2 linked regions of the Homo sapiens genome follow. The protein of the gene in region 1 purifies or fractionates together with the protein of each later gene. This does not show direct contact. Each region holds a gene or a part of one and is shown in the gene's direction. Other genes may lie near its edges.

Region 1 (5,305 bases):
GAAAAAAAAACGCACAACATCCTGTGTGTTTTCTGTGCATCCTGTGAGCTGGCGGTCTCACAATTATCCAAAGGAAGTGAATTGAAAAGCTACAGAGAAAATGTAGTTGGAGCAGCTCCAGTGTCAGGATAAGGAAAACAGCCAAAGAATTGAAGCCACTGCAGGAGTAAAGGGGAGGAAAAGAAGGAATCGAGCAGATGAAAGACGGGTTCCTTCTTTCAGGGAGGCGTCAGGAGGGGAGCTGCAGACGGCAGCCTTGCCAGGGCAGGAGGTGACAGGCTGGGACAAGAGTGAGCAGGCTGTGGACAGGTGGCCACGTCCCTGCCAGGCACCATTTAATCCTTACAATAACCCTGTGTGCTGGTTGTTAATTGTGCCCAGACTATGGATGGGAAAACTGAGGCTCAGGGAGGGTCAGTGACTTGCCTAAGGGCTCACGGCCAAGGCCATGAGTGAAGGCAGCGGCCGAGACTGGAGCCTGCACTCCACTCCACCCCTCTCTGCTCTGCTTCTCAAAGAGGAGAAAATCCCAGAATGATTCCGTGCCCTCAGGAGCCTGCCCTGGTTCTGTTCCTGTTCTGGGACACAGGGCAGGTGTCACGCTGTTCTGCAGCTCATAGACAAAGCTGGCTAGCCCGTGTTCCACCAGCATTCAATGGGACTGGCTTCCGGGACCTTTGGGCACAGTTTTGTCTGAGTGCAGATAGCAGGAGAATCTGTGTTCTGCGAATGTCATTCCTACAAATGAACAGCGTCCACGTCACTGAACACATCTTCTGTGGAGCTCACGCCCTCTGTGAGTCACTGGCTCATGGAGAGACAGCTCCAGGAGGGTCCTGTCCCGGGGTGGGGGGTCCTGTCCCACAATGCAACTCCCTTGTTCACAGTGCATTGCATGACCTTTTACTATCAGGGTTTGAATTCAGGATTCTCATTATAATTACTGGGCTACGTCTAACGTGATCCCTAATGAGTGAGGGTCCTCAGCTCACACCTCCTATGGCCCCCGTCCTCCTTCCCTGCCCAGCTTAGAGCAGAAGCCAGCGGCAAGTCCCCTGTTCCTCAGATGTCTGGCCCCGGCCACCTGAGTCTGGCCCTTACAGCAGGACTCACAGACAGGTCTCATCACAGCTCCAGATTTGCAGGCCAGATGCCCGTAGGAGAGAATGGGCTCCAGCCTTGGCACTCATAGGCCAGTCCTAGGATAAGGAGGAGAGCTTGTGGGCATGGCTGAGCTACCTCGGAGACGTCCTCTGACCCGGTCTGGCCTGACCTCGCTTTTCTTCATTCCAATTGGACCATTTGTGTATTCACTTTCGTTTTTATCCTTTGCGGTTTGTCTCTCCTGCTAAGTTTTCCATTCTCTTTTGTGTGCATGTGTGTGTTTGGGGAACTCTGGGAAATGTTTACAGCTCCCAGATACTGCGGTTAGGAGGGACGGAGGCCTGGTCTAACATTCAGGGTCCTTCTGTCCCTGGTGCCTTGTGAATCCCACCTTTATAAATGAGATCAGTTTTTTTGTTGTTGTTTTTTATTTTTAATTTTTTTTTTTTTTTTGAGATGGAGTCTCACTCTGTTGCCCAGGCTGAAGTGCGTGGCACGATCTCAGGTCACTGCAGCCTCCGCCTCCACCTCCTGAGTTCAAATGATTCTCCTGCCTCAGCCTCCCGAGCAGCTGGGATTACAGACATGTGCCACCACGCCTAATTTTTGTATTTTTAGTAGAGATGGGGTTTCACCATGTTAGCCAGGCTGCTCTCAAACTCCTGACCTCAGGTGATCCACCTGTCTCAGCCTCCCCAAGTGCTGGGATTACAGGCATGAGCCTCCATGCCCAGCCAAGGAGATCAGTTTCTATTCTGTGATCTCACCAGGTTGTGAGAAGGCAGGGGCAGCCTGGAAAAGACTCTGCGGCTGTCCATTCTGAATGTCCTGCCTGTGATAAAAGTGTCTGCCTGATTCTCCAGGCACACAGGCAGCTGCTCTTCCTCATGGCTGCCCCAGAGCTCCAAGCCTCACAGGCAGCTGCTCTTCCTCATGGCTGCCCCAGAGCTCAAAGCCTCACAGGCAGGGCCGGCCACTCACCTGTAGCTCTGGGAGGCAGAGCACGTCTCAGAGGGAAATAAACAGGAGTTTGCATCAGATTCAGGGCACCTGCCCTGCTATGTGTGAGGTGTTGAAGGAAGAGCGGAAAATGAGCTTGTTGGGAGAGCAAAGATTACAGATTGGCACCCTGGCCCAGTATTACTAGTGAGCGGTTCCTGCTGCCAGCCCCGCCCACTTTCATTTTCTCAGCAGCCCTACAGAAGCTGGGCTCAGAGGAGGCTGGTTGGCTTTGACGCCGCTGCTAGCCTGGGACTGCATGGGAGGTGGGACAGTGATTTTGCTCATTCATCTTTTTTTCTTGCACCCATATATTTTTCAAAACTTTAAGAGATGAGGGCTTGCTGTGTTGCCCAGGCTGGAGTGCAGTGGTGCAATCAATCACAGCTCACTCCAGCCTCAAACTCGTGGGCTCAAGTGATCCTACCCCCTCAGCCTTGCAGAGCACTGGGATTATAGATGTGAGCCAGTGTGCTCCCACTGCAATTCTAGTCAGAATTTCCTTTGGAAAAGACTCTTGAGTTACCTTTCCATTGTATAAAATAATTTATTTTCTTTGTCCCAGACTTGCTTTTCTGTCTCACATGAAGCCTCTCTATGCCCAGGATTTCTGAAATTGATAAATACTTAGCTCCTCCTGGCCAAGTATGATTTTACCATGTCCCCTTCAGACTTTACCATCCAGCAATGGAGAACTTCATTTTACTTAGAAAGATTTCATAAAAGACAGCCAGGGTAAAATCTGCACAGTTCATCATATGCGTGTGCCTTTAATGTAATATACATACCACTATTCACGTGACCGTCCTTAAAGCTGGGATGAGAGAACAGGGAATTTGCATTTGCTGTGGACGAACCTACTTGAGTCAGGCCTCAGGCTGAGAGTTTTACATCAGTTAACTGAGGCATTGGGTGTCCCCTCTTTGAAACAAGGAAGCAAAGATTCAACAAAATTTAAAAGAGTTTCCTAAGAGTTGCATGGCCAGCAAGTAGCAGAATCTGACCAGCTCCAAAAACTGTATTTTTCAAATTCACTATAAAAAATAACAAAAATATATTAGAGGAAATTTGGAGACAGAGGAAGGAAGGAAAACTTCCTTTTACTTTTGTTATATTTTTCTTTTTCATGGTACACAAACATGCCTGTGACTGCGAGTGTCTCTATGCTTGTGCATGCCCCTGGTCATTGTTGTCCATGGCACCTGTCAACCTGTGTTCTTTAAAGTCTGTATTATAAGCATTCTTGAGGTTATCTTTAGAACCATCTTTATTTTTTAGAGACAGGGTCTCTCTCACTTTATTGCCCAGGATGTAGTACAGTGGTGCAATCACAGCTAACTGCAGCCTCAGTGTCCTGGGCTCAAGTGATCCTCCTGCCTCAGCCTCCCGAGTAGCTTGTCCCACAGGTGCTACCACTCAGCTAATTTCTTTTTTTGTAGAGATGGGGTCTTGCCATGTTGCCTAGGCTGGTCTCTAACGCCTAGGCTCAAGTGATCCTCCTGCCACAGCCTCCCAAAGTGCTGGGATTACAGGCATGAGCCACCATGCCCAGCTCCATTGTTTTCACTGCTGTGTAGTATTCCGTGTCACAAGTAAATCATGACTTACTGCACATTCCTATCCCACTGTATCACCCTCATTCTCCCCAGGTGCTACTTTATAAATAATGCTGCAATGAACACCTCACACACTGGTCAGAATTTAAGGTCCTTTGTTTAGGCTGGATTCCTAGAAATAGAATAAGTGAGAGAGACAAATATTCTCCACATTTTTATGATAAAAACGAGTGTTCCTTTTACAAAATATCTTTAAAAGTATTCATTTATTTCACTCATATCAGATTTGGCAATATCTACCAAAATTATAAAGTGCAAATACCTCTGACCCAGACCTCCCGTCTGGTGAATATATTCAGAGAAGTTTTCACACAAGTACAGACATGTATTTATATAGCAGCATCATTTATAATGGCAGAAAACTAGAAATAACCAAATTTCCCCTGCACTGAAGGCTCATTAAATGCACTAGGCTATACTCATAAAATGGAATCCTTTGCACTTAAAACACGAGGCAGCTCCATATGTACAGACATGGAATTTTAAATGTATTAATTGTATTACAATCCTTTGCGTAAAATAACACTGATCATGTTTATGTCGAGCAAGGTAAGGTTTAATAAAGTCGTGACCCACTTAACACTAGAAACGGGAATGGTAAATTCTGACAGGAAGGCCAGGATCTTCACTCAAGAATGTTCTTCCTCCTGTAGCCCGTCTCACCCAGCTATCAGAACACGCATCCCAGTCTAGGGTCAGCTTCTGCAAACACGCATCCCAGTCTCGGGACCGCTTCTGCGCCTGTCTTCAGAATTACACCCGGTGAAAGTGGACGTCTCTGTCCGTTCCCCTGGATCCACGGCGGCGGCCGAGAGCTCCAGGGTTTTCTCGCGCTCTGTCTTCTGTGCGGCACCCGGCTCTGGGGTCAGAGAGATCCCGGCAAGAGCCCTAGCCCTGACCCCAACCAGGGCGCGCTCCTGAGCAAGTCACCCCCCTCCTCTGATCCGCCAGCTCTCTCCTGGGGCTGGAAACATCCTTGGGGTTATTGTGTGGAGTACACGTGATAACGCTGGAACCTCAGCCTAGTGCCTGGCGCAGGGTACGCACCAAATAAGTCTTCGCTGTTACCATCAGTACCTCTCTTAGCCACAAATCTGAGCCAGTCCTCGTTGACACAGGCTTAACCTTAGGATAGTCACAAAGGGCAACTCAAATGTTAACGTGCAGCTCCTCTCTCTTGCCTCACAGGGGACAGGGTCAGAAATATTTCATGCTTTGCACCTTTTCCTTGTAGTGATCAGTAATATTTTTAAGAAGGGAGAGATTTTATAACTTAGCTATGACACTTCAGAGAGGGCTCAAAAGTCCTTTTGATACAATAGGTAATACTTTTCTGGAAAGAGGAATGACTGAGTGCCTGGAATCATATCAATGGCTTAACTAACCTTTGGTTTCACAGTTTTCCTACTTGGTTTGGTTTTGTTTTTTTTTTTTTAGAGAACGTACTGTACTAGAATTCCCTTGTGGGATAACTTCACATAGCTGATGATCATTGCAAGGCTTGTTGGGTTTGTGGGGACTTTTTGGCAAATACAGCCACAATCAGAATTCTCTGTGGAATACATGATTTCTGTTCTGATCTGACG
Region 2 (4,638 bases), on another chromosome or scaffold:
GGCATGAGCCACCACACCTAGCCTATATATGGAATTTCTTATGGGAACTCTTATGTGAAGTATTAATGTATGTCAAATTCAAATTGCAAAATGTACTAGATATTTTCAATCCTTAGCCTCCTTAACAAAGATTTCAGCTTACAGGACAAATTGCAGAAAATCTTGGAGAAGAAGAGCAGTTGGTCCAAGGCTTATGTGCCCTTTTGTTGGGCATTTCGATTTATTTCAATGATAACTCACTTGAGAGCTACATGAAGTAAGTAAGGGGAAGATGGTTTTCTAATGGCATCAAGAGATAATGATGCTTTTTTTTTTTTTTTGCCAAAGCATTATGTAGACCAAGCTTTTATGTTTTGTTTTGATTTTATTTTTTTTAAAGCATCTCAATATGCTTATCTCCGTAGAGAGAAGCTAAAACAACTGATTGAGAAGAGGATTGGCAAAGAGAATTTCATAGAGAAACTAGGATTTATTAGCAAACATGAGTTGTATTCCAGAGCATCTCAGAAACCCCAGCCAAACTTTCCCAGTCCAGAATACATGATATTTGATCATGAGTTTACGAAGCTGGTAAAAGAACTTGAAGGTAAGACTGAAGATTTATATTGATATTTGATGGAAAGTAATTATATTTATATTGTACATGTATATTCTGGATGCATACAGGTTATATGGTAACTCTAAAGGTATATTTTCTTCCTAGCTCTTGATCTGTAGCCCATTGAAGGACATTTGGCTTTCAGTAGGATTGAAAAGATTATTTCTTACCTATCATGGAGTTAGGTTATATGTTTTTACTAAGTCTTAGTAGTAAAATAGTATTTAAAACATTTAAAACAAATTTTAAATAAGCTTCCTTTTATAGGTGTTATAACTAAGGCTATTTATAAGTCCAGTGAAGAAGATAAAAAAGAAGAAGAGGTGAAAAAAACATTAGAACAGCATGACAATATTGTGACTCACTACAAAAATATGATTCGAGAGCAGGTAAGTACTAATGAACTGTATATACCCTCTGATTACCAATAGGCACTTTCTGCTTTAAGGGAGCCTTTTTTTCTGACATTTCAAATGAAAGAGGATATAGAAAGCAAAACCCATCATTTTTCAAAGCATCTGAGTATTCAACAAACAGAGTGCTTAATATGTGCTAAGCACCATGCAGCTGATTTATTAGATAATGATGAGTGGATAAAGATGAAACTACAATTGCGGAATCATCAGTTGACATTTTCTTTCCAGGATACCAGTGAACTTTCATTACTTGCATTGTGTTGAGTACCCTAAACCTTCATTATATTCCTTCAAAATGTTTTCTTGACTTTTACTCTCATTTAATTTCTTATGATATTTACCTTGATTGGAATTCTAGAAAGTGCTGAAAAATGAGGTTATTAATGTTGTTAAAATTCCAGTGTCATAAAAAAATACAATAGTGGCAGACCCTGTGGGACAGATTCATCCCCTTCCCTCTACTGCTCTCCACACCTGTCTACTAATTGTGCACAGTTTATGGCAGGTGTGGCAAGTAAAAGCATAGATAGAACCCTTTAAATTGACAACTGTTTATATCTTATTTTCTTCCTCACAATCTACATTACTGAGATTAGTTTGTTTTTTGTTTAGACAGAGTCTTGCTCTTGTTTCCCAGGCTGGAGTGCAGTGGCGCAGTCTCGGCTCACTGCAACCTCCGCCTCCCAGGTTCAAGCAATTCTCTTGCCTCAGCCTCGCAAGTAGCTGGGATTATAGGCGTGTGCCACCACGCTGCCTAATTTTTATATTTTTAGTAGAGATGAGGTTTCACCATGTTGGCTGGTGTTGATCTCCTGACCTCGGGTGATCCCTTCCCTTCCCTGCCTCAGCCTTCCGAAATGCTGGGATTATAGGCATAAGCCAGCGCGCCCAGCCTACTGAGATTAAAATTTTAAGAAAGAATGAAAATATTGTGGTATATTTAGCATTCATTCTAAGCTTTTCAGTTTAAAAGTAAATCAATCAATAAATTATAATCTTAGAATGGTAAAATTTGAATCATCAAACTACCTATGGTTATTAGGATTTTTCATCTATATCTGGGTACAAAGATGGAGCCATTTCCAGTTGCTAAAATGTAATAATATCTTTGGAACAGTGAAAAAAACAAATAGTTGTAATGTGATATAGAGTCTATACTTGGGGCTGCAAATACAGTTGATTTGGCAAAAGAAAAGAGTGATTGACACAATTACTCTAATGACTTCCTTAGAAATGTTCATTTTAAATATTCTTACCATTTAAAATGCTATTTGGCATTAGTCCACAAGCATCTAGAACTATAAAATGTTTATATCCTTTGAATGACATTTGATAATTCATCCTAAGGGAATTCTCCAAAATTCAGGAAAACAATTATATGGACTAAAATATATAATGTAATGAAATTTGTCACTTTGAAAAATGGAAAGCAATATTAAGTAGATGCAATACAATTTATATTCAGTGTTTTTGATGCTGAGGTTGCTTTCCATTTTTCTTTTTCTTTTCTTTTTTTTTTTTTTTTTTTTTTTTTGAGACAGTTTCGCTCTTGTTGCCCAGGCTGGAGTGCAGTGGCTGAGCACGGTGCCTCATGCCTGTAATCCCAGCACTTTGGGAGGCCAAGGTGGGCAGATTACCTGAGGTCGGGAGTTCGAGACCAATCTGACCAACATGGAGAAACCCTGTCTCTACTAAAAATACAAAAAATTAGCTGGGGATGGTGGCACATGCCTATAATCCCAGCTACTCAGGAGGATGAGGTAGGAGAATCGCTTGAACAACCTGGGAGGCGGAGGTTACAGTGAGCCGAGATCGCACCATTGCACTCCAGCCTGGGCAACAAGAGCGAAACTCTGTCTCAAAAAAAAAAAAACCCAAGAAAAAAAGAAAGAAAGAAAAGAAAAAAAATGGAAAGCAACCTTAGCATCAAAAACATTGAATATAAATTGTATTGCATCTACTTAATTAGATAGGATTAAAAATTATGGTTTGAAAACTATGTAGCAATATGGGGAAATTATGATAGAATGTTAAGTAAATTAAAGGCTACATAATTATATATATATACCTATTGTGACAAATTTTAAACCATGGATTGGGAAAAAATTAGAAGAAAATAAAGAAATACATAAAATTCTGGCCGGGCACGGTGGCTCACGCCTGTAATCCCAGCACTTTGGGAGGCTGAGACCGGTGGATCACCTGAGGTCAGGAGTTTGAGACCAGCCTGGCCAACATGGTGAAACCCCATCTCTACTAAAAATACAAAAACATTAGCTGGGCATGGCAGCGGGCGCCTGTAATCCCAGCTACTCAGGAGGCTGACGCAGGAGAATTGCTTGAACCTTGGAGGCAGAGGTTGCAGTGAGCTGGATTGCACCACTGCACTCCAGCCTGGGCGATAAGAGCGAAACTCCGTCTCAAAAAAAAAAAAAAGAAAAAAAATACATCAAATTCCAACTATAGTTTTATTATGATGGTAAAAGTTGGAAGCTCTTTTTTCAATTTCCTATATTTATTTTCTCATTGGCTTTTAATATTAAAAATAATATAGAAGCATATGTATACATACATATACTAAATTTCTTAAATAGTTTGATGTAAATTTTTAAATGGTTTTATGACCATAAAATGGAGTTTTTTCATTTTATTTCCCACTATAATTGCAGGCTATGCCATGATGTTTATTAATGGAGCCTTCTTTGAAATCTTGTAGTTCTGCTGCATGTTAATTGGCCTTGATGGATATATTAACACACCAAGTTGCTTAATTACTGAACGATTTTGGAAGTGTTAAGCACTTTAGCATACTGTCCCAAAATGACCTCTAATTTTTAAAATGTGTTCACCTTCTTAATGCTAACGAGTATGACTTTAAAACACATGAATTATGTTTTGTTTCACAGGATCTCCAACTTGAGGAATTAAGGCAGCAGGTTTCTACATTAAAATGTCAAAATGAACAGCTCCAGACGGCAGTCACACAGCAAGTATCACAGATCCAGCAGCACAAAGACCAGTATAATCTTCTTAAAATACAGCTAGGTAAGCATAGCTAAGCCATCACTATGATAGCACTCAGGTCATTCTTTCCTCAAGAGCTAGACAAAGTAAAAGATTCTTTCTGTGGACTAGTATTTTTCTAACCTTAATCATGGTGACAAAAATGTAAATCGGAGTTTAAAGCAAAATAGCATGATAGTTAAGAGCAGTTAAGACTGGACCTTTAGAGATTGAAGTCCAAGCTTCTTGCTACCTGTTTATCTGGCCCATTGATTCTCAACCCTGGCTGCATATTAGAATCTCCTGAGATGCTTTTTTAAAAAAAAATACCAATGCTGATACCACAATAGTGTTTCTGATTTAATAAATCTGGGATTAGGTCCAGGGATCAGTAACTAGTATAAGCCCACCAGGTGATTCTAATGTATAGCTGATTAAGAATGACCGCTGTAATCTTTCAGTTTCCTCTTCTGCAAAATGAAGATAGTAATAACATTTGAGAACTAAATGATATAATAAATGAAAAATTTAAGTTGTGCCTGGAAAATGGCAAGAGCTCCACTGCTTTTAAATAGTATTATCCTACGGTGCTTGTGAAGATTTTTTAAAAGGATTTTATTT

Evidence for each region. The genes of interacting proteins can lie anywhere in the genome.
Region 2: the proteins of DLGAP2 (region 1) and USO1 purify together in Homo sapiens (affinity purification with mass spectrometry, with the first as the bait; one large-scale study listed by BioGRID). This does not show direct contact.

The regions. Positions count from the first base shown.
Region 1 is NC_000008.11:1,670,688-1,675,992, forward strand, and holds part of DLGAP2 (disks large-associated protein 2), read left to right. Parts: intron 1-5,127; exon of another isoform or gene 5,128-5,305.
Region 2 is NC_000004.12:75,800,214-75,804,851, forward strand, and holds part of USO1 (general vesicular transport factor p115), read left to right. Parts: intron 1-137; coding exon 138-256; intron 257-404; coding exon 405-586; intron 587-865; coding exon 866-987; intron 988-3,920; coding exon 3,921-4,059; intron 4,060-4,638. UniProt on the Homo sapiens protein: General vesicular transport factor required for intercisternal transport in the Golgi stack; it is required for transcytotic fusion and/or subsequent binding of the vesicles to the target membrane.